Homo sapiens: one gene and its partner. The protein of the gene in region 2 interacts with the protein of the main gene of each other region in a pairwise test. Each region holds a gene or a part of one and is shown on either strand. Other genes may lie near its edges.

Region 1 (7,298 bases), on a different chromosome or scaffold from region 2:
CAGCAGGGTGGCGCGAGCCCCCTGAATCCTCCGCCGGTCCCAGTCCAGGTCTCGCTGGCGCTTTTCTTCCTGGAGCCTCTGGAAGGAAAAGAGGCGGCTCACCACCACCTTTCCCCAGAGCCAAAGAACCCCAGGGGATTATCTAGGAGGCCTGGCCTCTCATTCTACAGATGGGGAAACTGAGGCTCAGAGGACGAGCAGGTAGGTGACCGATGTCATGCAGGAAGCCAGAGGAGACCCCCAGCCTGCCCTCATTCCATGTGGCCCAGCTGCCCTCCCCCGTCAGGAGGTGCTGGCCGTCCTCCTTCTCCTAAAGGCACAGCAGGGACTCAATTCCTACAGCAGCCTCCACTCCCAGCTCCGGGGTGCAGGGCTCCCAGGTGCAGGCTGGGCCCAGAGTCTTCCTTCTCAGGTCCTCAGGGGGCTCCCTGGCTCAGTCAGCTGTCAGATGCCACCTCCATGAGCCATGGCCGGCTGCCCCACAGCTGAACGCAGATCACCTGGGCAGCTTCCAGAACATGCAGACACCACAGCCTCACCCGGTGACAGGAAGGTTATGGTCCTAGAGGGGCACCCCAACCCCTGAGTTGCTATGTTTCAGCTCATTCCTCACTGCCCTCCTCACTGTGAAAACTCTGGAGCCCTGGAAGAGGAAGCTGGATTTGTGTGGAGGAAGGGGTACTTCCCCGTGTGTTGTCAGCTTTGTTAGGGCTGAAGACGAGTCCCCTTTGCCCACGTTTGCCATTTTTAGGGCAGAGCCTCCTCCCGCCAAATAAGCAAGGATGTGTCCGGTGAGTGGCACGGGGGTCTGGGCGGCCCCATCCTGGGACTGAAGGCAGGCTGGCGGGCTTTGTCACCCACGAGGCAAGTCACCCTGCTCTCATGAACCTCAGTGTCCCCCGCTGTAAAGCCAGGCTGCTCTCAGGAGCCCAGGGTCATCACACAAGCTGCTTGGTGGCAAACAGGGAATGGCATGGGACACACTCACCCGGGCTAAGAGCAAAGCAGACAGCCCAGCTGTTTGAGGTGAGATCTCAACTTTCCCAGTTACCTCCAAGCATAGAAAAGGGGATGGAGGCAAGGACCCAGAAAGGAAGCGGGCAGTAGTTCTGAGTGGGGAGGTTTCATGTGTGTTTTTCCCCCTTTGTGCTTTTCTGTCTTCTTAATTTTCTACAAAAAATGAAAACTAGACAGCAATACTGCTTTCAGGATGGCCGGCCGATCTCCTGTGCCAGATGGTCCAGGCAGAGCGGCAGTCCTGAAGCACAGAGCAGGGCCCTGGACCCCCATTCCAGCCCCGGCGCCCTTTCCACCTTGGACTACTTCCTGAACTTCACGCCCCCTGCCTGCCCAGGTCCCGGCCCCACTGCAGCCTCCCACACATGTGCACCTCTGGCCTGCAGGGAAGCAGGTGGACGAGCTGCCCCACCCACTCCTCATGCCCTGGTCCACGCCACCGCCACTGTCCCTCCTCCTCCCCAGACCCACCAGATCAGAAGCTTACACCAACTATGGCACCTGCCACCCCAGCCTGGCCTCTTCCACCCACTCTTTGCAGGTTTGAGACCCTCTCCAGATCTCTCCTGCCAGGATTCTCAGTGGTTTCAGCACACACAGAGACAGCCCTCTCTTGTCCCCAGCTGCTCAGCTCTCCTGCCTCCTCTCCAAAGATCTAGTCCCGGCTTCACCTTCTCACCCACTGGGCACACCCTACCAGTGGTTCTCAAACTTGAGTAGGCATCAGAATCCCCTGGGGGCTTTCGAAACCACAGACTGCAGGCCCCACCCGGCCGATGCTGTGGGTCCGGAGACCCTCCCTTTGGGACCCTCCACCCTTCCGTTGTCATTACCAATAACAGTCTCACTGCTCTAACCTGTCTCTTCCACTCTCTCTCCAAGTCCCTGATTCCAATGATTATGCCCCCCGCAAAGTGTGACCTCCAGTCTGCTGGCCGCCACTTTTCCAATCTCTCTCTGGCCCCCTGGTTCGTCTCATGGCAGATGCTCCCAGGCCAATACCCTCGGCCCCCTGAGTCCTTCACTTGATCAGGCAGGCGGTGACCACAATGAATCTGGCTAAGCATGGTGGGGGACACCCTGACAGTGCTCTCTGGGGTGACCCAGACTATGGGGTGACCCAGACCTATGGGGTGACCCAGTCATCTGACTATGACCCCCTAGTGGGCCCTGGGCACTGTCTGACCATCCTGTCCCCTTCCTCCAGGCTGTTCCCTCTCCAGCTCTTCTAGATGACCACTTAGCACTAACTCCCCCCGGCCCTGCTCAGTTCTACTTCTAAAAGGTAGAAAATGACGGTCACTTCAGTGGTCCTGAGCCACAGCCCCCAGTACAGATCAACTCAGGTCTCAATTCTGTTCACCCGCAAGCTCCCGCCCTGATGCCCCTTCCCGTGACTCCAGTGATGGCTCTGAGCTCCCAGAGGCCACACCAAGCCCTCAACTAGCACTCCATGTCCCTCGCTCTCCTGCAGCCCAGGGACACGGCTCCAGCAAGTCTCTCCTCTGGCATCAATTTCCCCCTCTACTGCATCACTCCGGCTGAATGACAAGCATGCTGTTATTTCTACAATCAAGACAAACAAAAACTTTCCCTTCACCTCATGGCCCCCACCAGCTCCTACTCCATTTCTCTGCACCCTTTACAGCAAACGCCTTGTAAGTGCTGTCTGCATGTGCCATCTCCATTCGTTTCCTGCCTGTTCTCTCTTGAGCCCATTAGGCTGGCAGCCCCACTCCTCTGCCAAACATGCTCCTTCCTGACAGGGTCCCTGGTGACTGCCATGGTGCTGGATCCAGCGTTTAGCCTGAGCATGGCAGCAGCGTTTGACCCAGGGGTTCCCCTCTCCTTCCCTCCCAAACACCTTTCCTCACTTGGCCTCCAGGAAACCACGGCTTGCATCTGTCCACCTCCCTGGCGGCCCCTTCTCAGATGCCTTTGCTCTTTATCAACAGTGGTGGTGAGAAGGGGGGTGCTGGGGAGGTGGGAGCAGGACTCAGTCCTCAGCTTTAAATACTCTCTGTAGGGCCGGGCATGGTGGCTCACGCCTGTAATCCCGGCACTATGGGAGGCTGAGGTGGGTGGATCACTTGAGACCAGGAGTTTGAGACCAGCCTGGCCAACATGACGATACCCTACCTCTACAAAAAATACAAAAAGCAGCTGGGTGTGGTGGTGCATGCCTGTAATCCCAACTACTGGGGAGGCTGAGGCAGGAGAATCGCTTGAACTCAGGAGGCAGAGGTTGCAGTGGGCCGAGACTGCATGACTGCACTCCAGCCAGGGTGATAGAGTGAGACTGTCTCAAAATACATGCATACATTCTCTCTGTAGGTGACGACTCACATTTATGCCTCTGGCCCAGACCTTGTTCTGAGCCCTATGTTACATATCCAGCTGCCTCCTGGGCTTTAATTGGAGATTGTGGCAGAAAATACTACTTGTCTCCCAGTAACCATTTTTCGTTCTTCTTTAGTAAAACAATCACCAGCACTTCACTGTCTGGAATAAACGCATTTCCTTGACTTCTTTAGAGTTAGGGGCAACCTTGTGACTAAGTGTTGTCCAGTGAAATGTAAGTGGAAATCTCCTTAGAGTGTTCTCCATTCCTCCTTCCTGGTAGCTGGACTATGCATGTGATGGCTGGTGCTCAAGCAGCCATCTTGCACTAAGAAGTGAGAGCCAGGAGCCAAGGATAGCAGGACATCAGTCAATGACCACAGAGCTGCCATACCAGCCCTGGACTGTTTTCCTGAGGATTTAGTCTACTTGCAAGAGAGAAAGTTCTATTTTGTTTAAGATGCTGTTATGTGTGGTTTTCTGCCACATTCAGGCAAATGTAATCCTAATAGATACAGATATCTAATGGACTTTGCACACTTGACGTATCCAAAATTGTAACTCTGATTTCCACCCCTCCCCACCCACCAACCTGCTCCTCCCACCACCTTCCCCATCTCTGGAAATGCCAATTCCATCCCTCTAGTTGCTCAGGCCACAGGACCTAGAGTCGCCTTTAACTCCTCTCTTTCACACGTCCCCACCCAATCATGCATCCAATCCTGTCGACTCTACCTTCAAAACAGATCCAGAATCTGACCATTGCTCAGCACCCCCACTGCCTGCCCCGTGGTCCCAGCCAGCATCACCTCTCGCTGTGAACACTGCAAAGGCCTTCCTGGAGATCTCCTTCCTTCCCCCTCAGCCCCTAGTGTCTGCCCTCAATCCAGGGGGATCACGCTGGGGATCCTGTTCAACCTAAGTCAGATCCTGTCACTTCTCTGTCCAAAACCCTGCAGAGTTCCCCGTCTCCGTCACAGAAGAAGCCAAAGTCCTCCCCAGTGGACTGCCAGGACCTCGACCGTCTGCCTCTGAGGCCTCCGTACCTGCCCCTCTCCTCACTCCACTCTAGTCACCAGGCTCCACGCCCTTCTCTGAGCAGGTCTGGCAGGGTCCTGCCTCAAGGCCTTTGCCCTTGCAGCTCACCCTGCCCGGTCGCCCTTTTCCCAGGTAGACACATGGCTCCCTCCCTACCCTCTTTTGGGTCTTTGCTTCAATGTCTTCCCATTCTACTGTCCTCTATCTTGGCACTCCTACTCCTAATGCCACATCATACGGGTGTGACACTATCTGGCTCTTGTCTCCCACCGACTAGAAGGGAAACTCCTTGAGGGCAGGTGCTAGGGCAGAGCACAAGGCCTGCTACAACTACATTTGTGCCTGGAAGGCAGTGGGAGCAAAGAGCCTGGCTCTATGGGCTCTGGAAAAAGGGGCGGGGCAGTCACCAGCTTCTCCTGGATTTGCTGCTTCTGGACTAGGCGGATCTGCTCCAGCTGCTCCTGGGTCATGCCCTTCCAGCGGTCAGGGACCACGCGGTGGGGCCCGAAGGAGCTGGCTGCCTGCTGCGGGTTCTCGGAGAGCAGGTCCCCACGCAGGAGGTTGGTGATCTCGGCCAAGTTGTCCTCTTGTTCTTGCTTTTTCTCTTGCTTTTTCCTTTCCACTGACTCGATGGCCTAAGCAGGTGAAGACATTAAAGAAGATGGTCCGAGTGACCCCAGGGGCATTCTGACACCCAGGCCAGCAAATCTCACTGGGGGCCCTCGAGGGGAGGATATGCTAAGGGCAGCAGGAGTCGGGTGGAGGGGAGACTTGTCAGGCACGGATGTGGGTGGGTCCTTGAACCCCTGGCTGCCTGCGCACTGCTGGGCGGGTGGGCTGGACTCGGGGGATCACCACCTGTTGGGTGTATGCATAAGAGCTCCGGGTCTTGCACCAACTTACCAAGGCAGGGAACTCCCTCCTTGGATTAGGCCGACACCCCGCGTGGGCCTGGTCCCACCCAAGGCAGGGCTCTATGCCCCTGGCAACCCTTGGACATCTGTGGGCTGCAAAGAACGCTCAACAGAGTGATTGACAACAGTGGTAGAAAATGCACTGTCACTTCAGTGGTCCTGAGCTGCAGCCCCCAGTACAAAGTAATTCCAGGTCTCATTTCTGTTTGATTCCCTGGGGGTTCCCTGGCTATGTGGCCTATACCAAGTCACCTCCCCTCTCTGGGCTGCAGTCATTTCTCTGTAAAGTCAGGAGATGGCTTAGGAGACATGTACTTGGGTTTACAGTTGTCCTCAGTAACACATGGACAGGGCAGTTTGCAAGGAGCCGGCCTCCCACATGTGCTCACCAGAGGCCAGCTTGATTGAGTCACACAGTACAAGCTTTGTAGTTAGACAGGCCCAACTTCAATACCGGACTTGCCACTGAGTACTCCCTAAGGAAGTCAGCTCATCCTTCCAAGCCCCTACACCCGTTTTTTTTTGTTTGTTTGTTTGTTTGTTTTTTTGAGACGGAGTCTCGCTCTGTCACCCAGGCTGGAGTGCAGTGGCACAATCTCGGCTCACTGCAACCTCTGCCTCCCAGGTTCAAGTGATTCAACACTGTTCTTACTTTGGGAGGCCAAAGTGGGCAAATCACAAGGTCAGGAGTTCAAGACCAGCCTGGCCAACATGGTGAAACCCCATCTTTACTAAAAATAGAAAAATTAGCTGGGCGTGGTGGTAGAGGCCTGTAATCCCAGCTACTTGGGAGGCTGAGGCAGGAGAATGGTGTGAACCCGGGAGGCAGAGCTTGTAGTGAGCCAAGATCGCGCCACTACACACTCCAGGCTGGGCAAGAGAACAAGACTCCACCTCAAAAAAAAAAAAAAAAAAGAAAAAAGAAATGTGAGCAGAGGTGGCAGTACTGCTCCTGGGAGGAAGCCTGCGGGGACTAGCCACATTCCTTCCCTCCTCCTGCAGGGATCCTCTGGCTGGCGGTCGCTCCATCCCAGGACCTGGGCTCCAAAGTGAGGATGCCAAGGAACAGGCCTCACAGCCTGTCCATGGCGGGCAGGGAGCATGCATGGAACATCAACTTTCTGTTTAAGCCACTGAGACTGCTGCTTCTTATCCCAGCAAGGGTTAGCACATTCTGACCGACACAGGAGGGTGTTGTCGCTTCCTCATTCTGCAGATGATCAAATGGACGCAGTGGGTGGCCTGCCCAAGGCTGCAGGGCAGAGCCTGGTCTGCACCCCGTGTGGTCGGGCTCCAGAGCCTGCGTGCCACACCCTGATGCCACAATGCCTCTCTGACGAAATGAGCCCCGACCCAAGAACTGGAGGCCCTCACGTGTGTCCTTCCTGTTGAACTGGACCGGCCTGCTTGGGCTTTGGATTAACATCCCAGGTTAATTAAAAAGCCTAGTTGTAGTTAGTAGCAGAGCTGCAGAAGCCAGAGGGCGGCTTTTCCCAGTGCAGGAGTGTTTGCAATGGTGCTGCCTCGTGGCATCCACGTGAGGAGCCGGGGGTCTGAGAAAACCAGGCAGGCTGTGGATGCCCATTAAACATCTTCTAGAATATATGAATGAATAAATTGATGAATGAGACAATAGGGTTTAGCAAAAGCCACTCCAATGCCCAGCAGGAAGGGCTCAATAAACATTGGTTGAATTGATGAATGAATGAGTGAATTATCATCATCATCATCACCATCGCTTCCATAAATGAATGAGCAGATCACCAGCCAACAGTGGACTAATTGTCAAGGGCCCCACATCCTGCCATTCACTTGCAGTGGGGACTGGAGCAAACAGCCTCCCCTCTTTGGTCGCCCTCTGTAAAATGAAGGGCAGGGATGGATGATCTCTAAGACCTTTGCAGCTCACTGGGTGGTGAGCTCGGACTTCAGGTGTCTTGCTTTGCCTTTTGGTCCTCCCCAGCCCCCGCAGTTGGCTCTCCTCATTCC
Region 2 (2,954 bases):
AAGCAATCCTTCTACCTCAGCCTCCCACGTAGCTGGAACTACAGGCATGTGCCACCATATCTGGCTAAGTTTGTTTTTTAGAGTCAGGGTCTCACTGTGTTGCTCAGGTTAGTCTCAAACTATTGGCCTCAAGCAATCCTCCTGCCTCTACCTACTAGGTAACTAGGATTACAAACTGGAGCCACTGCGCACAGCTAAAACACTCTTTTCAATGCCAAAAATTACTCCAGATAACCCTTAAATGATGGTAGCTGAACCTTTGTTCAGTGCATAAACAATATTTGGTAGACATGGCTTTATAGACTGCATAAGTCTGAGGTCCCAAACTAGGAACTAGTGCTCTCAAGTGTTCCCAAATCCTTCAACTCCTGCACTAACCCATTGACTTTTCTCACTCAAACTGCCCTGCAGCAACTATTACATCCAACATCTTTAGCATTTGCGATCCTAACCTCTCATTCTCTTTCTCCTTTGAGCTACATTTTAAACTTACCAAGTTTTTCAGTTGTTTCAAACATCTGTCTAATATTTCTAATCAGATTAGTTTTCCCAAAGACAGAGAGTATTTTACCTTTTTATATTCCTTATAAAAATTTCTCAGTAGATACTTAATGAAAGTGTATTAATCAAGGAATTATTAACAATTATACAATGATATAAGCACATCTTTATTTTTCATTTAAACACTTAATATTTACAAAACATTAAACCACTCAATTTTGACTATTGTATCAAAAGTGATATATTTTGCAACATATACTGTAATTTAAATAATTCTATTAATTTTCAAAAAGTACATTTAATTACCATACTAATTTTCAAAAGAAGAGCAATGGAATGTCAGAAGTAATCTTTCACTATGTGCCAGTAGCTTGAGTGGTTATATTCTGAAAAATGAATGACACATTTTCTGTTATTCTTTCAAGAAAAGGATCTGTAAGATTTAAATGATCTCCAGAAAAATGTTTCCATTGCTTCAGCTGGGACATAGAAAGAGGTTTCAGGGAGTTAGATTTCTGGTGATGTGGACCAAGCTGACAATCTCTAGAGACAATGAATTTTTCCAACGAATCACCTGTAATAAGTAAAACAATGAGAAAATCCTTAGGCAAGCCAATATCCTGCTAAATACAATACTTTTTTGTTTTATGATAATTAGTTTATGTGATTTATTACATTTGATCACCATGGTTCAAGTTAAAACAAATTCATTCTTTTTACAAACATTTATAAGTTATTTACTATGTACTGATTTAAACAGCAAAGGTAAAATGATGAAGAAACACAGGCATGGTCTCTGACTTCAAGGACCTTACAGTCTAGTGGGAGAGATATACATTAAATAAATAATCATCTGAAAAATGTATTACAAATTCAAAATCCCTTTCCTAAAACCTGTGGGGCCACGTTTACAAATTCAGAATATAATTCGAACAATCTGGGTCAGCATTCCATAATGAAACTCATTAACATTCTGTAGCAAGTCATAAATAGTCTTACAAAATGGGTTAAATAAAGACTATTGATAAACTCACATCAATTTAGGTAAGGTTTTGCCACAAATAATTTTGTCACAAATTTATGAAGAAAAAAAAACCTTTTGAGCTTTCTAGATTTCAGAATTGAAGATAAGGGACTGTGGAGCTGAATTACAAACAGAGGTAAGGGTATGAAGGAAAGATACAGGGAACTATCTTACATATGACAAGAGAGGCTGACTTGGTCCGGAAGGTAAGTGAAGGGCACCCTGAGGAAATGTTCTATTAAGATCTGAAAGATGAGAAAAGAACTAGATGGGGAAAAAAGATAAAGCATTCCATGATAAGCACATTAAAAAGCTATGAAAAGGAAGGGACACTGGCATAGTCGAGCAATTGATACGAGCCTATGCAATTAAAGCCTATAGAGTAAAAGCAAAGAATAATGCAAAAGAAGTTAAGTAATGCACAGTGAAGCAAGTATTCAAGGGCTGGATTATGCAAAACATGAATGGCAGAGGCCAGCCGTTATTCACCAAATCCATTTCTCTTTCCTCCAGGGCACTTAGTCACCTTTTCCAGCCTCCCTTACGGTTAGATATTGCCACTGAGTCTGGCCTTATGGAATGCAGCTATGTCACTTCCAGGTCTGAACTATAAACATCCTTCAAACTGAACAATTTTCTACTTTATCTCTTCTCTCACTGCTGGCTGGCAGATGCAGGGTATCCCAGCAGAGGACTCTAAGGTCCAAATGGATGGAAGAGCTCCAAGTGAAAGAACCCTGGATCACGAAATTACCTTATGAAAGGCTGTCCACTAAATGCCCACAATGACCTGTTACACAAATGAGAAACATATTTCTATTGTGTTAGACCATTGTGCTTTTTTAGTTTCTTGTTACAGCAATTAGACTGCCCTGACTAACTTATCAATTTAGAGATTTTAGTATCTATCCTAAGAGCAATAGGAAGCTATTGGAGGTTTTATTTTTTTAACCTTTTAATTATGGGAAATTTCAAATAAATATAATAAATATATAGCATGTATCATTTCACTTATAAATATTTCATTCTACATTTCTAAAAGATAAACACTTCTTTGAAATTTTATCACACCTAAAAGAAAAGCCTCAAGTCATTCCTTAATATCATCAAATTCTTGTCAGTGTTCATAATCATTGAGGTTTTAAGAAAAGAGATGACAAGGCCGGGCGCAGTGGCTCACGCCTGTAATCCCAGCACTTCGGGAGGCCAAGGCGGGCAGATCACGAGGTCAGGTGATCGAGACCATCCTGGCTAACACAGTGTAACCCCGTCTCTACTAAAAACACAAAAAATTAGCCAGACGTGGTGGCAGGCGCCTGTAGTCCCAGCTACTCGGGAGGCTGAGGCAGGAGAATGGCGTTAACCCGGGAGGCGGAGCTGGCAGTGAGCCGAGATAGCGCCACTGCACACTAGCCTGGGTGACAGAGCA

The links.
Region 1: the proteins of RAD54B (region 2) and RIBC2 interact in a two-hybrid assay, tested with the Homo sapiens proteins (2 studies listed by BioGRID and IntAct).

The regions. Positions count from the first base shown.
Region 1 is NC_000022.11:45,423,680-45,430,977, reverse strand, and holds part of RIBC2 (RIB43A-like with coiled-coils protein 2), read right to left. Parts: intron 5,031-7,298; coding exon 4,803-5,030; intron 79-4,802; coding exon 1-78. UniProt on the Homo sapiens protein: Microtubule inner protein (MIP) part of the dynein-decorated doublet microtubules (DMTs) in cilia axoneme, which is required for motile cilia beating.
Region 2 is NC_000008.11:94,371,313-94,374,266, forward strand, and holds the end of RAD54B (DNA repair and recombination protein RAD54B), read right to left. Parts: intron 1,076-2,954; coding exon 858-1,075; 3' UTR 648-857; downstream 1-647. UniProt on the Homo sapiens protein: Involved in DNA repair and mitotic recombination. May play an active role in recombination processes in concert with other members of the RAD52 epistasis group.